2 separate regions of the Homo sapiens genome follow, and region 2 is linked to region 1. Evidence: fine-mapped expression QTL. A gene starts in region 1. The other region holds a variant in brackets. All regions are shown on one strand. Distances are between the middles of the regions. Region 1 holds the start of EXO5 (exonuclease 5). Region 2 overlaps ZNF684 (zinc finger protein 684).

The links. PIP is the estimated chance that this variant, and not a neighbour inherited with it, causes the effect.
Region 2: its variant is fine-mapped to the expression of EXO5 in stomach (GTEx, PIP 0.92).

What each region holds. Positions count from the first base shown.
Region 1 is chr1:40,505,582-40,513,923 of GRCh38, reverse strand. EXO5 (exonuclease 5) reads right to left here and starts at 5,157. Exons shown (of 4, transcript NM_001346953.2): 1 at 5,016-5,157; 2 at 4,299-4,473; 3 at 4,134-4,191. EXO5-DT (EXO5 divergent transcript) reads left to right here and starts at 5,229. Exons shown (of 2, transcript NR_187365.1): 1 at 5,229-5,335. RefSeq lists enhancers at 4,751-4,840, 4,871-5,120.
Region 2 is chr1:40,548,108-40,556,449 of GRCh38, reverse strand. It overlaps ZNF684 (zinc finger protein 684), which reads right to left. Exons shown (of 5, transcript NM_152373.4): 5 at 8,283-8,342. Among named protein-coding and RNA genes, the nearest start is that of ZNF684, 21 kb to the right of the region's middle. The variant A/G (reference allele first, on the strand shown) is at 3,955.

The sequences.
Region 1 (8,342 bases):
TGGCCTCAGTTTCTTCAGATTTAAAAAGAGCTTTGAGGCGGGGCGGGTGGCTCACACCTGTAATCGCAGCACTTTGGGAGGCTGAGGTGGGCAGATCACTTGAGGTCAGGAGTTCAAGACCAGCCTGGCTAACATGGTGAAACCCCATCTCTACTAAAAATACAAAAATTAGCCAGGTATGGTGGCACACACCTGTATTCCCAGCTACTCAGGAGGCTGAGGCAGCAGAATTGCTTGAACAGGGAGATGGAAGTTGCAGTGAGCCGAGACTGCACCACTGCACTCCAGCCTGGGTGACAGAGCAAGACTCTGTCTCAAGAAAAAGAAAAAAAAAAAAAAAGGAGATTTGAGGTTTGCCTTTTCTGCTTCAAAATTCTATTGACTTGAAAGAGTATTTCATTATTTTAAGTGAATATACATCTTTGTAAATGTAGGAACAATGTTTGAGAAGTTTACCATGGGCCACTTTCTACAATTTCCTTTATACAAAGTCCTTGACGAGCAAAATGAATCTCAACTACAAACTGTTCCTTGAGAAAAAGGAGCTCTGCAATAACTGTTTTTAAATGCAGTTCAAGGAACCTAGTATGGCAAAATTCAAAGATCAACTATATATAGATACAAATAAATATAGTCTAACACAAATTAATGCATGAAATAATAAGAGGATGTTACAGCGACACATGGAAATTAGTAGCTTGACTTCATAAATTATCCTCTTAATATTATAGAAATTGGTGTCTGTCACTAAACTGGAGTTTCCCATTAAGTTTATTTTCTCCCTCCACAAGAAACTAGCTTATAATGGGAAAAAAATCTGCCTATTACAGCATTATTAAAAACTCAAAATTTACTGCTATAATAGAGAATATTTATTGTGCGGTTATTTTTTGTGTGCCAGACACTGAGCCACGTGTTTTACATCCAATATCTCACTACCCTACTGTGGGATGGGGATGGGTACTGTACTCCTTTTTTCTTTCAACTTTTTACTATAAAGATTTTCAAGGCCGGGTACAGTGGCTAAAGCCTGTAATCTCGGCACTTTGGGAGGCCGAGGCAGGTGGATCACCTGGGGTCGGGAGTTTGAGACCAGCCTGGCCAGCATGGTGAAACTAAAAATACACCTCATGGTGAAACTAAAAATACAAAAAATTAGCCGGGTGTGGTGGCGGGCACCTGTAATCCTAGCTACTCGGGAGGCTGAGGCAGGAAAATCGCTTGAACCTAGGAAGTGGAGGTTGCAGTGAGCTGAGATAACACCACTGCACTCCAGCCTGGGTGACAGAGTGAAGACTCCATCTCAAAAGAAAAAGAAAATTTTCAAACATACAGAGAAGTAGAAAGAATAAAACAACAAACACCCATGTCCACACCATGTAGATGAACAACTGTTGACATTTTGCTGTATTTACTTCTTGTGTGTGTACTTTTTTGTTTTGGCTGAACTATTTTAAAGTAAATTACAGATAGCATAAAACTTTAAAATCTAAATGTTTCAGCATAATTTCCAAATGGCATTCTTCTTCATAACCACAATACTGTCTTCCAAATGACATTCTCCTCATAACTACATTATCACATCTGACAAAATTAGTAATTCCTTAACATTCCAGTTCATATATAAATTTCCCCAACTGTCCTCAAAATGTCCTAGATAGCTTTTCTTTAATCCAGGAAACAAAGACCACACATTATGTTTGATTGTTTTGTCTTTCAAGTATTTTTTAATCTTAAGAAACTGGGCGGCCAAGCGCAGTGGTTCACGCCTGTAATCCCAGCACTTTGGGAGGCCAAGGCGGGCGGATCATGAGGTCAGGAGATCGAGACCATCCTGACTAACACGGTGAAACCTGTCTCTACTAAAAGTACAAAAAATTAGCCGGGCTTGGTGGTGGGTGCCTGTAGTCCGAGCTACTTGGGAGGCTGAGGCAGGAGAATGGCGTGAACCCAGGAGGCGGAGCGTGCAGTGAGCTGAGATCCCACCACTGTGCTCCAGCCTGGGCAACAGAGCGAGACTCCGTCTCAAAAAAAAAAAAGAAAAAAGAAAAAAGAAACTAGGCAAATTATCTTATGAAGATACTCTTTTTAAGCCTTCCTTCTAACCCCACATATCTAACCTGCATAGAGAGTAAGCAAAACAAGATACAACCAGTCCATTAGTGTTTGACTTTGAGTGCCAGGAAAATAAATAATTTGACATAGAATTTTAGCTGATAGAGATAGCTATGAACCAAATGTCCCCTTCTTGCTATTCTAATAAGCAGTGAAATAAGGTGAATGCACCAACTCCTATGTCAAAGCGTAAGAAGTGATGCCCTGAAAACGTCATTAATATCAGTTGTGGTTGTGTTTAACTGATTTTTAAATAGTCTAAATGTCACTAATGAAAGAAAACATAGATAGCTAGAAGAAAAGTTATCTGCAATGAATAAAAATAATACAATAGTAAGACTTTTGCTTATAGAGTATCCTACAACATTATTGCTTTACAGGATATTTCAATAGTAACAAAATACAGAAGCTGTGCATTTACACAAGTGTTATAAACTGTCAATGTGCTTTAAATAATTTCAAGAAACTTTATTTCAACTATGAAGTCTCTGAAAATTGGAAAGAATATTTACCCTTCACCAAGAAACTAAAGTTAAAGGGCATTTATTTTTTCTTTTCTTTTATTTTATTTTTTGAGACAGAGTCTCACTCTTTCACCCAGGCTGGAGTGCAGTGGCGGGATCTCAGCTCACTGCAAGCTCTGCCTCCCGGGTTCACGCCATTCTCCTGCCTCAGCCTCCCGAGTAGCTGGGACTACAGGCACCCGCCACCGCGCCCAGCTAATTTTTGTATTTTTTAGTAGAGACGGGGTTTCATCGTGTTAGCCAGGATGGTCTCGATCTCCTGACCTCGTGATGCACCCGCCTCGGCCTCCCAAAGTGCTGTGATTACAGGCGTGAGCCACCGCACCCAGCCCTAAAGGGCATTTATAACACATATGCTATGAGGTATTTGTGAGGGTGAGGGGGAACTCCAAGTCCAAATCAATAACCTTAAAATATTTTATTTCAAATATCTAGACCTGGCTGTCCAATATGGTAGCCATTAGTAGCCACTAGCCATATGTGGCTACTTAAATTTAATTAAAATAAAATAAAATTCACATCTCAGTTGCACTAGCCATATATTAAGTGCTCAGTAGCTACATCTGGCTGGTGGATACAGATAAGGCACAGATACAGAACATTCCCTGATCACAGAAAGCTCTACTGAACAGCATAGAGTTAGACTATTTCCTGTGTACACATTAACTCCCCAAAGAGAGAGGAAGCTCCTGAAATGTATGGAGTTCCTACTTGTTTTACATACAACATTGAGAACAGGTAGTTCTAAACAGGGAAGTGAAATGTCTTTTGGAGAAGATACAAAGCAGGGCATTCTCTGTGAAAGTATTCATCTATAAGAATAAAACAGTACACTAGGGATGGATGACTGATGCTCAGATGTGTCTGGGACTTTCCTACGCAGAAAAGAATCCAGAAGAGAGCATAATGCAGTGCATTGTGTCCCAAATTGTAGTTTGTATGTCTGACACGAGACGATTTTACATAGCACATGGACCAACATTTTTAGATACACCTTAGAATAACTATACTGTTATTGGAGCAGCCATCAAATGGCTAATTTCACAGATATTGTTTCTTAGGACAAGTTTGATTTTTATAAAAAAAAAAAGTAAGTAAAAACATAGAATAATACAGGTAGTACACAGGTATGGCAAAATTGTTAGGTAGTAAGTGAATGGGATGCTGGGAAACAGCATAATGCCAAGAGTCTGGGAGTCCTACAGATATGGATTCTAAACCTAATCCTGAGTAGTTCGGTAGCATTTAGTAGTATGCTACTTGCCTTTTGAGTAAGCTTGGACAAGGTTCTAGTTTTCCTGAAGTTACTGACACATTTTTAAAATACCTACTAACCCTACTGAGATATCCGACCATTGAGTGATAACATATAGTACGCATATTAGCACTCGATGAAGATAGATCTCCTTCTTTTTCCCCAAGGAAGAGATGAGAGAGTGTATCGATTCCCCCTGACAAAGGAGATGAAACTTTAGAAGAGAAACTCCTATTCACCTGTGACTTCGTTGATCTTCCTCCTCATAGGGAAGGCCAGAATGCTGAAATGACAAGGCTAGGGAAGAGAAAGAAGTTCTGAAAGACCAGGTCTGCATTAAAGAACCTAAATTAGCAACTTAGGTCCTTGCTATGGTAGAACCGGAACTTCTGGTCCTTTCTTACCTGACCATTCCCTCACGTTGGGTGTTTTCTCCTCTCACATTGACACTGCACAGACTGTTACCCACCCCAGATCCTAGGTTACATAACGCTCGCCTCTCTCCTGGGGCAAACTCTCTCCATGATTTCTTCGTTCCCCCGTACTCTAGATGCAATGACTTGATCCAATCCCTGCTCCCTGAAAGTAAAAGGGTCAGACATAACCAAGATCCCCAAGGAGCTCCGAGATCAGTTCCCTCTTCCAGCTCCATTCTCAACCCAGCAGCTCAAGCAAGAGACCTTATGACAGCGGCTCTTTCTCTCAGATGGGTTACTGCCTTCTGCAGAATTGCCGATGGCAACATCCTGACTTGTTCAGTGCGGCCCGGACTTGTGGGCTCCGCGGGCGTTTGCCTTCAGGGAAGATCTTTCCTCTGGCCCTAAAGCACTGTCTCCCAGGGAGTGCCATGCATGCCCTAAAGTGTACTGAGCACTTCCTACAGTTCTGGCAGAGCCAGGAATAAGAACAGGGAGCCGTCCACCTCGGGAAGGAGTCCCGGCCAACAGCACTGTGTTCCGAGGGCGAAGGTCCAGAACGGGAACCCGGCCTGTGAGGGGAGACGAGACGAGCCGCTTCCCGGGAGCCGCGCCCACCAAGGGAGGGAGACGCGGCGATCGCAGGGACAGAACCCTAAGCTCCGAAACGCAGCCTCCCAGCCCATTCTCCGGCCTTCCCCTAACCTCTGATACTCCTCCGAACCTCGGACTCCACCTGGTTTCGCCGCGGCCTCGGAGCTGCTCCCGGACGCTCCCGGCGAGGAGACTGAGGAAGCCGGGCAGAGCGCGCTGCCGGAGCGGACTACACAGTCGGCCCGCCACTCGCAAAAAAGCCGCCCAGAGCCCAGTCCCAGAGTGCCCCGCGGCTGCCCACGGACCGCCTTCCCAGAGGCCCTCGCGGCGCCGCCTACCTCGCGAGGCTGCGGCTGGGGCAGAAATCCGTCTCTGTGAGCGGAGGAGGGTGTGCTTATGCGAGAGCAGGTTTTGGGAGCTCACTAAAGCAGGTCAGTCCCTCTGTTTGCGCCGTTGTCTGTGGGTCGTTTAATTCCGGGCGCAGCTGATCTGTAACTTCCCTCACTGGCGAGGTCTCCCAGTTACCACCGGGACAATCCGAGCAAGGTCTGGGCCCCTCGCTGCCCCCGGTGAAGTGCCGCGTCTCCGCTTGGCCATCCGTGGATTCAGCATCCCCACCTTAGCACCTCCCGCCGGCTTTTCCATTGAGAGCAAAACCACGAACTCACTTTTGAGAGATGCTGGCGCTCCCCTCATCAATATTTCTTTTTTTTTTTCTGTTTGCTTACTTTTAACTAACCTTTTATTGATAAATATAACACAATTTTATTCTGAAATATAAACCAAAGATAAGTATAATTATGAACAGCCAAGTCATTAGAGCGAAAAAAGAATAGTGTCAGGTTCTTCACAGATACACTTCCTGAGAAAACCACTAGCCCGACTTTTATAACACTTTGCTTTTCTTATTTATATTTATTTATTTATTTATTTTACCAAAAGCAGATACTTGACTCTTTGCTTTTCTTTACGGTTTATCACGCATACTTGAAAACTGGATTTATGACAAAGGTGGCATCATACAGCCATGGAGAAAAGATGGTCTATTCAGTGAAGGTTCTATGACAATATGAAGGCCGGGCACGGTGGCTCACGCCTGTAATCCCAGCACTTTGGGAGGCTGAGGTGGGCGGATCACGAGGTTAAGAGATCGAGACCATCCTGGCCAACATGGTGAAACCCTGTCTCTACTAAAAAGTACAAAAATTAGCTGGGTGTGGTGGCACACACCTGTAGTCCCAGCTATTCAGGAGGCTGAAGCAGGAGAATCGCTTGAACCGGGAGGCGGAGGTTGCAGTGAGCGGAGATCACACCACTGCACTTCAGCCTGGGCAACAGAGGGAGACTCCGTCTCAAAAAAAAAAACAAAACAGAAAACAGGACCTCTATCTCTCATTTCATCACAAAAATCAATTGTAGCTGGATTAAGACCTAAATGTGAAATCCTAAACTATAAAGTCTTCAGAATATAATATAGGAAAATATCTTTGGACTTCAGAATAGGTAAATATTTTAAAACAAAAATAGAAAAACATTAAATTGGCCAGGCATGGTGGCTCATGCCTGTAATACCAACACTTTGGGAGGCCCAGGTAGGCGGATCACTTGAGGTCAGGAGTTGAGACCAGCCTGGCCAACATAGTGAAACCCCGTTTCTAGTAAAAATACAAAAAATTAGCCAAGTGTGGTGGCAGGTGCCTGTAATCTCAGCTACTTGGGAGGCTGAGGCAGGAGAATCACTTGAACCTGGGAGGCGGAGTTTGCAGTGAGCCGACAACAGGCCACTGCACTCCAGCCTGGGTGATAAAGTGAGACTCTGTCTCAAAAAAAAAAAGGAAAAAAAGAAAGAGAAAAAAGGAAAGAAAAAGAAAGAAAGAGAAAGAAAGAAAAGAAAAGAAAGAAAGAGAAACATTAAATTAAGACAACTACAGGCTGAGTGCAGTGGCTCACACACCTGTAATCCTAGAACTCTGGGAGGCCGAAGTGGGTGGATCCCTTGAGCTCAGTTCAGAAACCAGCTGGGGTAACATGGTGAAAACACGTCTCTACAAAAAATACAAAAATTAGCTGGGGGTGGTGATACGTGCCTGTAGTCCCAGCTACTCTGGTGCGTCAGTTGGGAAAATTTTGAAGTGACTTGTGTTTTAGATAATATTATCAATCAATTATAGGTCTCCTGAGTGTCATAATGATTTTGTGGTTATGTAGGAAAATGTTCTTTTTCTTAGAAATATGTAAGTTGAGGCCAGGTACGGTGGCTCTCGCCTGTAATCCTAGCACTTTGGGAGGCCGAGGCGGGCGGATCACCTGAAGTCAGGAGTTCAAGACCAGCCTGGCCAACATGGTGAAACCCTGTCTCTACTAAAATACAAAAATTAGCCGGGCATGATGGCAGGTGCCTGTAATCCTAGCTACTCGGGAGGCTGAGATGGGAGAATCGCTTGAAACCGGGAGATGGTGGTTGCAGTGAGCCGAGATCATGCCACTGCACTCCAGCCTGGGTGGCTGACTGAGACTCTTGTCTCAAAAAAAAAAAAAAAAAAAAATGGAATTTAAGTGTATTAAATAGTCTGTTCTCATGCTGCTAATAAAGACATACCTGAGATTGGGTAATTTATAAAGGAAAGAGATTTAATTGACTCACGGCTCCACATGGCGGGGGAGGCCTCACAATCATGGAGGAAGGTGAAGGAGGAGCAAAGTCACCTCTTACATGGTGGCAGGCAAGAGAGAACATGTGCAGGGGAACACACCTTTATAAAACCATCAGGTCAGCTGGGTGTGGTGCCTTATGCCCGTAATCCCAGCACTTTGGGAGGCCATGGCTGGTGGATCACCTAAGGTCAGGAGTTCAAGACCAGCCTGGCCAACATGGTGAAACCCTATCTCTACTAAAAATACAAAAAATTAGCCAAGCATGGTGGCAGACGCCTGTAATCCCAGCTATTCGGGAGGCTGAGGCAGGAGAATCACTTGAACCTGGGAGGCGGAGGTTGTGGTGAGCTGAGATCGCGCCACTGCACTCCAGCCTGGGCAACAAGAGTGAAATTCCATCTCAAAAACAAAAACGAAACAAAACAAAACCATCAGATCTTGTGAGACTTATTCACTATCACGAGAACAGCATGGGAAAGACCTGCCCCCACGATTCAATTACCTCCTACCAGGTACCTCTTCCATGATATGTGGGAATTATGGGAGCTACACTTCAAGATGAGATTTGGGTTGGGAGACAACCAAACCATATCATTGAGGAAATGCTTTTTAATCCATTGAGATATGAGAAGGCATTTCTGGATTGAGGCTACAAAAACTTTCTGCCTCTTCCCCAACATAACCTTTCTTACTTGAGATGTAAACTGAATGCCAGGAAAACCCCTCCCCAACCCCTTCACACATGGACCACTCCTCAAATGGGGTTTGAGGGGCAATGACACT
Region 2 (8,342 bases), 43 kb before region 1:
TTTATTATGGTTCTAAGAAGAAAAAGTAAGTTGCATTGTGAGATGTCACAGAGTAAAATTCACTGTCTTTTGTAAAGCTTTGAAATAATTTACTAGTGGTTTTTCAGTCTTGAAATTCACGCATCAGCATAATGAATGTTTAGTCTGTAATAATTGTAACCCTTGTTTTTTAAAACTATATTATATGTTACTTAAAGGCAGATTTAAAACATATATTCTAGGCTGGACACGGTGCCTCACACCTGTAATCCCAACACCTTGGGAGGCTGAAGTGGGCGGATCACAAGGTCAGGAGTTTGAGACTAGCCTGGCCAACATGGTGAAACCCTGTCTCTACTAAAAATACGAAAATTAGCGAGGCGTGGTGGCACGCACCTGTAATCCCAGCTACTCAGGAGGCTGAGGCAGGAGAATCTCTGGAATCTGGGAGGCGGAGGTGCAGTGAGCCAAGATTGCACCACTGCACTCCAACCTGAGCGACAGAGCGAGACTCTGTCTCAAAAAAACAAACAAACAAACAAAAAAACATAAATTCTGAATAGCTATCCACTCTCTCAATCTTGTACCTGAATCATCACAAACCCATTCATTGCAGTACAGTGAATTAATGCAAAATTACTAAATCTAGAGACATAGCAACTTAAGAACCAAAGCTGATCAGAGTAAATTCCCAGTAATTAGATATGTTCACATAGTAGCAATCATTTTCAATCCTTAATTAAGACAAGTTTTTGGGAACTGGTTGTGAAAATGAACGTATTTAAGTTGGTCTCCAAAATACAGAGACTTTTAGCATTTTGACTTAGTTTGAATATAGGGAGCTTGACAATATTTTGCTAAGGAGTTTGCTTTACAAATTTACTCAGGTACACACATAAAATTGGCTTTGTTCTTAGTTAATAATGAATAACCATACCAGTTACATTGTTATTTTGTAAAATTTATTTCTAAATAGAATAGAAACTTCTTACTGTTTAAATGCTTAAAACCATAGTTTTTAATGCCCAACCCTAGAGTTTATTTTAGCTATGAGAAAAGAAGCAAGATCAAGTGCATGTATGACTATACCACCTCAGACCATACTGAAAAATCATCTGCAGTGTTAAAATACCTCATATCTATAATGATCCTACATTGAATAATACAGACACACGTAAATTAGTTGCTGATATAAATGAAACCTCTAAGCCTACGATCTACTTGATTTTACATATAGAAAGTATGATCTCTGGTTCTTCTCCATATTCTTCTCTTCTAGAATGTGTGTGCAGTATAGTTGTATTATCTATTCACTTGGCTAAAGATTTTCTCTGACTGCTGCATATTCTTTTTATATAATAATTGCATCAGCAACTGTAAGCCTCTTATCTTGCCCAATAGTTTGACAGCTTGTATTTCTAGGCTAGAATACTTAAATTATGACTTTTTTCCTAGGCTGTGGATGGTTGTTATCATCACCATTCATCCATGGAAAGGAAATTTGGGCCGGACGCGGTGGCTCACGGCTGTAATCCCAGCACTTTGGGAGGCCAAGGAGGCGGATCACCTGAGGTCAGGAGTTCAAGACCAGCCTTGCCAACATGGTGAAACCTCGTCTCTACTAAAAATACAAAAACTAGTCGGGCATGGTAGCAGGCCCCTGTAATCCCAGCTAGTCGGGAGACTGAGGCAGGAGAATTGCTTGAACCCAGGAGACGGAGGTTGCAGTGAGCCAAGACCACGGCATTGCACTCCAGCCTGGGCAACAAGAGTAAAACTCCATCTCAAAAAAAAGAAAAATAAAATAAAATTTGATGTAAACAACAAACATTTCGGCCGGGTGCAGCGGCTCACACCTGCAATCCCAACACTTTGGAAGGCTGAGGTGGGTGGGTCACCTGAGGTCAGGAGTTCGAGACCAGCCTGGCCAACATGGGGAAACCCCGTCTCTACTAAAAATACAAAAATTAGCCAGGCATGGTAGCGCATGCCTGTAATCCCAGCTACTCGGGAGGCTGAGGCAGGAGAATCACTTGAACCTGGGAGGCAGAGGTTGCAGTGAGTTGAGATGGCGCCATTGCACTCCAGGCTGGGCGACAAGAGTGAAACTTTATCTCAAAAAAAAAAAAAAAAAAGGAAAAAGAAAACAACAAACATTTCAAGTACACCTCCCACCACTGCAAAGGGAATAACATTTCATTTGCTCTCTCTCTCTCTCTCTATATATATATAAAATTTTTATTTTCTGATAAGAAAAGTGCTAAGGCCAGGCACAGTGGTTCACACTTGTAATCCTGGCATTTTGGAAGGCTGAGGTGGGCAGATCCCTTGAGCCCAGGAGTTCGAGACTAGCCTGGGCAACATGGTGAAACCCCCTCTCTACCAAAAAATACAAAAATTAACTGGGCATGGTGGTGTGTGCCTGTAGTCCCAGCTACTCAGCAGACTGAAGTGGGAGGATCACCTGAGCCCAGGGAGGTCCAGCCTGCAGTGAGCCCTATTTGCACCTCTGCTCTCCAGCTGCAGTGAGCCCTATTTGCACCTCTGCTCTCCAGCTGCAGTGAGCCCTATTTGCACCTCTGCTCTCCAGCCTAGGCAATAGAGTGAGACCCTGTCTCAAAAAAAAAAAAAAAAAAAAAGTAAATATTATATATAATTAGAGAAGATGTAGAAAAAGTACAAAATACATAATCACATCACCCAAAAGTTACTACTATTTACATTTTGGAACACATATGTATATAAAACTTTTTTAAATTGGGATATTCTCTGTAACTTTTTAAATATTTTTCAATTAAAATATCATGAACATTTCCCTTATTAGGGAAGAAGAGTCACCAAGCCCTAACTAGTTTTTATTTGCCTTTCAATCATAGCACGTATGTTGATGCAAAGACCTATTCATTCCCCCATCCTAAATTCCTTTAGAATATAATGCTAATTAATTTTCTTCCAGAAGTCTCTGCGAAGTATCATGATTAATTTTTCTCAACTAAATATAGGAGTTCCCTAGTTACATGCTGCTTGACCTCCTGTAGGTTTACTCCTACATATGTAGCTACGGCAGTGAAACAGGATGAGTTATATTTATAAATCTATTTACCTGCAGAAATGCCTCTTTTCCTGTACTAAATGCTTAAAGTAATACAGAACACAGCTGCTTTCTTTCTTCAGTATCTTGTTAATCAGGATTAAATATATCTATATGCACAAGTACATACACACACACCCCGTTTGTGGTTTGCATGGGGAAGAAAACATATTACAATGCTCTCAGCTGAGCCAGAGGCAGTAGAAGACTACGTGACTGTCCCTGACTTCTTTTATCTAAAAGGAGGTTCGAGAATGCTCAGTAACAACTGCCACATCTATTGACTGGCACCAGGAAATGGTCAGAAATGAAGTTCATAGAAATGAACTTCATACTAGATAATAAATCATATTATTTCACTTACAATCAGCAATTATGCAAATGGTGGTTTTTAGGATTTGAAGAGACAAGGTGTTTACCAGAGACTCTTTTTTTTTTTTTTTTTTTTTTTGAGATGGAGTCTCACTCTGTCCCCCAGGCTGGAATGCAGTGGCATGATATCGGCCCACTGCAACTTCCATCTTCCAGGTTCCAGCAATTCTCCTGCCTCAGCCTCCTGAGTAGCTGGGACTACAGGCACCCACCATCACGCCCGGCTAATTTTTGTATTTTTAGTAGAGACGGGGTTTCACCATGTTGGCCAGGCTGGTCTCAAATTCTTGACCTCAGGTGAGCCACCACACCTGGCCAGAAACTTTTAATAGACACAATTTTGGGAGCATTTTAAAAAATTGTGGTAAAATGTAAATAAGATTTAAGATTTTAACCATTTTTAAGTGTATCATTCACTGGCACTAAGTACAGTCATGATGTTGTACAACCATTATCATAATAGATAAAATTTTGTATAAAGTACATGACATATTTCAAACCTATAGTTATAT[A/G]AATTTTGAAGCAATGCAGATATTTCTATAATTTGTATAAAAAAATCGGGGCAGTGCATACATGTAATTATAGTCCATCTGAAGCCTCATATTCAATTCCTCACAATTTCCTAAGCTTTATACTCTACATTAAAATTGTCTACTTATAACTCAAAATTTTCTGTAATCTTTTCAATAAAATCAGTAATATCACTTACGAAAACAAGAAATAACGAGTGTTGGCAAGGATGTGGAGAAATTGGAACCCTTGAACGCTAAGGTGGGAATGTAAAATGGTCAAGCTGCTATGGAAAACAATATGAAGGCTTCTCAAATAATTAAAAATAGAGCTACCATAAGATGCAGCAATCCCACTTCTGGGTATTTATCCAAAAGAATTGAAAACAGGATCCCAAAGGGATAGTTGCTGTCCCGTGTTCATAGTAGCATTATTCACAATAGCCAAGAATTGCAAACAACCTAAATGTCCATCAATGGTTGAATAAAGACAATGTGGGATATAAATACAATGGAATAATTCAGCCTTAAAAAAGAAGGAAATTCTGTCATAAGCTACAATGTGAATGATCCTTAAGAATTAGGGTAAGTCAGCTGGACAGGGTGGCTCACACTTACAATCCCAGAACCTCAGGAGGCCGAGGCAGGAGGATCACTTGAAGCCAGGAGTTTGAGACCAGCCTGGGCAACAAAACAAGACCCAGTCTGTACCAAAAACAAAACAAAACAAAACAAAACTTTTTTAAGCCAGGCATAGTGACATGCAGCTATGATTCCAGCTACTCAAGAAGCTGAGGAGGGAGGATTACTTGAGCCCAGGAGTTCAAGCTGCAGTGAGCTGTGATCGCGCCACTGCACTCCAACCTGGGTGACACAGTGAGACCCCGTCTCAAAAAAAAAAAAAAAAAATAGGCCAAGTGAAATAAACCAGTCATGAAAGGACAAATACTGCATGATTCCACTTATATGTATTATCTAAAGTAGTCAAACTTACAGAATCAGTTAAGTAAAATGGTGGTTGCCAGGAGCTGGAGGGGTTAGAAATGGGGAATTGTTCAATGGGTACTCAGTTTCAGTCATACAAGATGAAAAAGTTCTAGAGATCTGCTCTACAATGAAGTGCATCTAGTAAACAATAGTGTACTGTACATTTAACATTTTGATAGGGTACACTTCATTTTTTTTTTTTTTTTTAACACTTACAGTTTCTGGTTTCAGGTCTGGACAACAAAACAAAAGGTCAAAATATCTCTTCCATCTCATTACCACCTACCCTATAGATGATAATTGTCATTCCCATTCTGGACAACAAAACAAAACAGAATCCTGCATTTGCCTTGCCCCTGAGCTTTAAGAAAATACTGCTAAAATAGGGGTCTGGAAAACTGACAATAATTGAAAACAAGTAGCTTTTTTTTTTTTCAGACAATCTTGCTCTGTCACCCAGGCTGGAGTGCAGTGGCGCAAATATGGCTCACTGCAGCCTCGACCTCCCAGGCTCAAGCAATCCTCTCACCTCAGTCGCCCCCTATCCTCCTGGGGGGACTAGAGGTGTGCACAAAGCTGGCTCATTTTTTTCCCCTTTATAGAGATGGGGGTCTCACTATGTTGCCCAGGGTTGTCTCAAACTCCAGGGCTCAAGTGATCCTCCCGCCTCGGCCTCCCTAAGTACCACTATCACAGGCATGAACTATTATGCCCCATCACATAGCTTTTTTAAAGTTAGAAACAATACTTTCCAACCTGTGAAAGATGGTGAAATAGATACAAAGTTATAATGATGACAAAAGAATTTTTAAAAGATTTTTAACAAGGATGCGGGGTGAACTCTGAGAATCGGGTAAGCCATCTCAGAAGAATGAATGAGGAGGGTAATCAGAACAAGGAGATAAAGGCATGATGGGGAAATGAGAGGAGGTGAATTGGTTTGGAGTTCGATCAGAGTCAAGGTTCACAATTTCCAAATATTAAATTGTCCTGTTAGGATTTTCCTTAGTCTCCTTCATACACTGGTCTTTCCCCTCTTACTTATCTTGCACACAACCACCAAGCAAATTGTCAGCCACTAACTCCCTCTTATTATAGGCACCTTCTCATAGCCTCAGCCTCTGACTCCATCCAAAGTACAGCTAAGGCATATTTGCAGAAAATTATCCCACTCGATTTCTAGGTAGAATTCATTTGTATGGGAGCAAACAAAATTATGAAACCAGATACATCCTGATATATTACAATTTAAATGTCCTGGCTATATTTTATTTCCGGTAAGCTGGAGCAGACTATTGCACACTTCTTGCCACCTTGACCTACATAGCTGCTCTTTCAGGGGCATCTCATACCATGCAGCAACAGTGGAGCCTCCTGCCCCCTATCTCTCTTCCTTTATCTGTGTAGTTTGGAGTTTCTCAGATGAGGGTTACAGGCCGGGGAAGGAGAGAGAATGGAAATGGTAAGCACTACATAGGCTGAAGTGAGGACTTCATGTAGGAAATGACAGAAAACTCCTGAGCTGAAAAAAGGCAAGTACTGCGACTATAAATACCAAGATTTTCCTGTGTGGATGGCATACTGATTTTGAAGACAACTCCATGAAAAGAAGGTTCCAGAAATTTTGGAATGACCTCATAAGTGAAATTAGCATATAGCCTCCTAAAATAACTTAGAAAGACAAGATTTAATTTAGGTCTTTAAAGTCCCAGTATGCTTATTCAAAAAAGCACTATCGTTTATGGTTATTACCCAACACTACTCTTTCAAAAAATGGCTAATGAAAGAAAACAATGCAACATAATTGTAACTGAGCTTAAACTTAAAAGGCTTGATTTCTGAATTTAGGTTCAAGTCTAAGTTTTGTCACCACTCAAGAAAGACATATAAGTTTTTTGGCATTACCAAGGAATACTGTGGACAGCAAGAAAACTTTAAATAATGGCTAATTAATCCTTGAAGGGAATATGTAGAACTTACAAAATGTCATATTCCAAAGTTGCTAAGCAGAAAAACTTGCTCTTTTCTAACAAGTTTTCATCTTCATTAATGATGCCTATGCTGTTCATACGGAAAATTCCAGGCATCTTCGGGGCTAAACATGTTTTGACTTCTCAAAAAAAAAAAAAAAAAAAAATCCCTGTAATCCCAGTGCTTTGGGAGGCTGAAGGGGGATGAGAGGCAGGGGGATCACTAGAGGCCAGGAGTTCAAGACCAGCCTAGGCAACATAGTGAGACACCTTCTCTACAAAAAATAAAAAATTAGCCAGGTGTGGTGGCTTGCACCTGTCGTCTTCGCTACTTAAGAGGCTGAGGTAGGAGGAATGCTTAAACCCAGGAGTTCAAGGTTACGGTGAGCTATGATTGTGCCATTGCACTCAAGACTCAGGAACAGGGTGAGACCTTGTCTCTATAAAACAACAAAAGGCCAGGCATGGTGGCTCACGCCTGTAATCCCAGCACTTTGGGAGGCCGAGGTGGGCAGATCACGAGGTCAGGAGATCGAGACCATCCTGGCTAACATGGTGAAACCCCATCTCTACTAAAAATACAAAAACAGGCCGGGCATGGTGGCTCACGCCTGTAATCCCAGCACTTTGGGAGACTGAGGCAGGAGGATCACGAGGTCAAGAGATCGAGACCATCCTGGCTAACGTGGTGAAACCCCGTCTCTACTAAAAATACAAAAAAAAAAAAAAAAAAATTAGCCAGGCCTGGTGGCAGGCGCCTGTAGTTCCAGATATTCGGGAGGCTGAGGCAGGAGAATGGCGTGCACCCAGGAGGCGGAGCTTGCAGTAAGCCAAGATTGCGCCACTGCACTCCAGCCTGGGTGACAGAGTGAGACTCCGCCTCAAACAAACAAACAAAACAACAAAATCCCCAAAACTCTCTCCCCAAAAGTTGCAAAGTATCATGAGACCCTACTTAATTAAAATAAAATACAGATGATGCCCCAGTTAAATGCCACTTAAGCTGGCCGGACGCAGTGGCTCACGCCTATAATCCCAGCACTTCGGGAGGCCGAGGTGGGCAGATCACGAAGTCAGGAGTTCGAGACCATCCTGGCCAACATAGCAAAACCCTGTCTCTACTAAAAATACAAAAATTAGCCAGGTGTGGTGGCATGCGCCTGTAGTCCCAGCCACTCAGGAGGCTGAAGCAGGAGAATCGCTTGAACCCAGGCAACAGAGGTTGCAGTGAGCCGAGATCACACCACTGCACTCCAGCCTGCGGGGAAGAGTGAGACTCTGTCTCAAAAAAAAAGAAAAACAAAAAACACAAAACCACTTAAGCTATCCTTACAGCTTACGTAGATATATCAATGAAAAAGCAAAACAGAAATATTTGAAGTGCAAATTATTTATTTACATATTTAAATAATTCTTTTCCTCAACTGAATACTT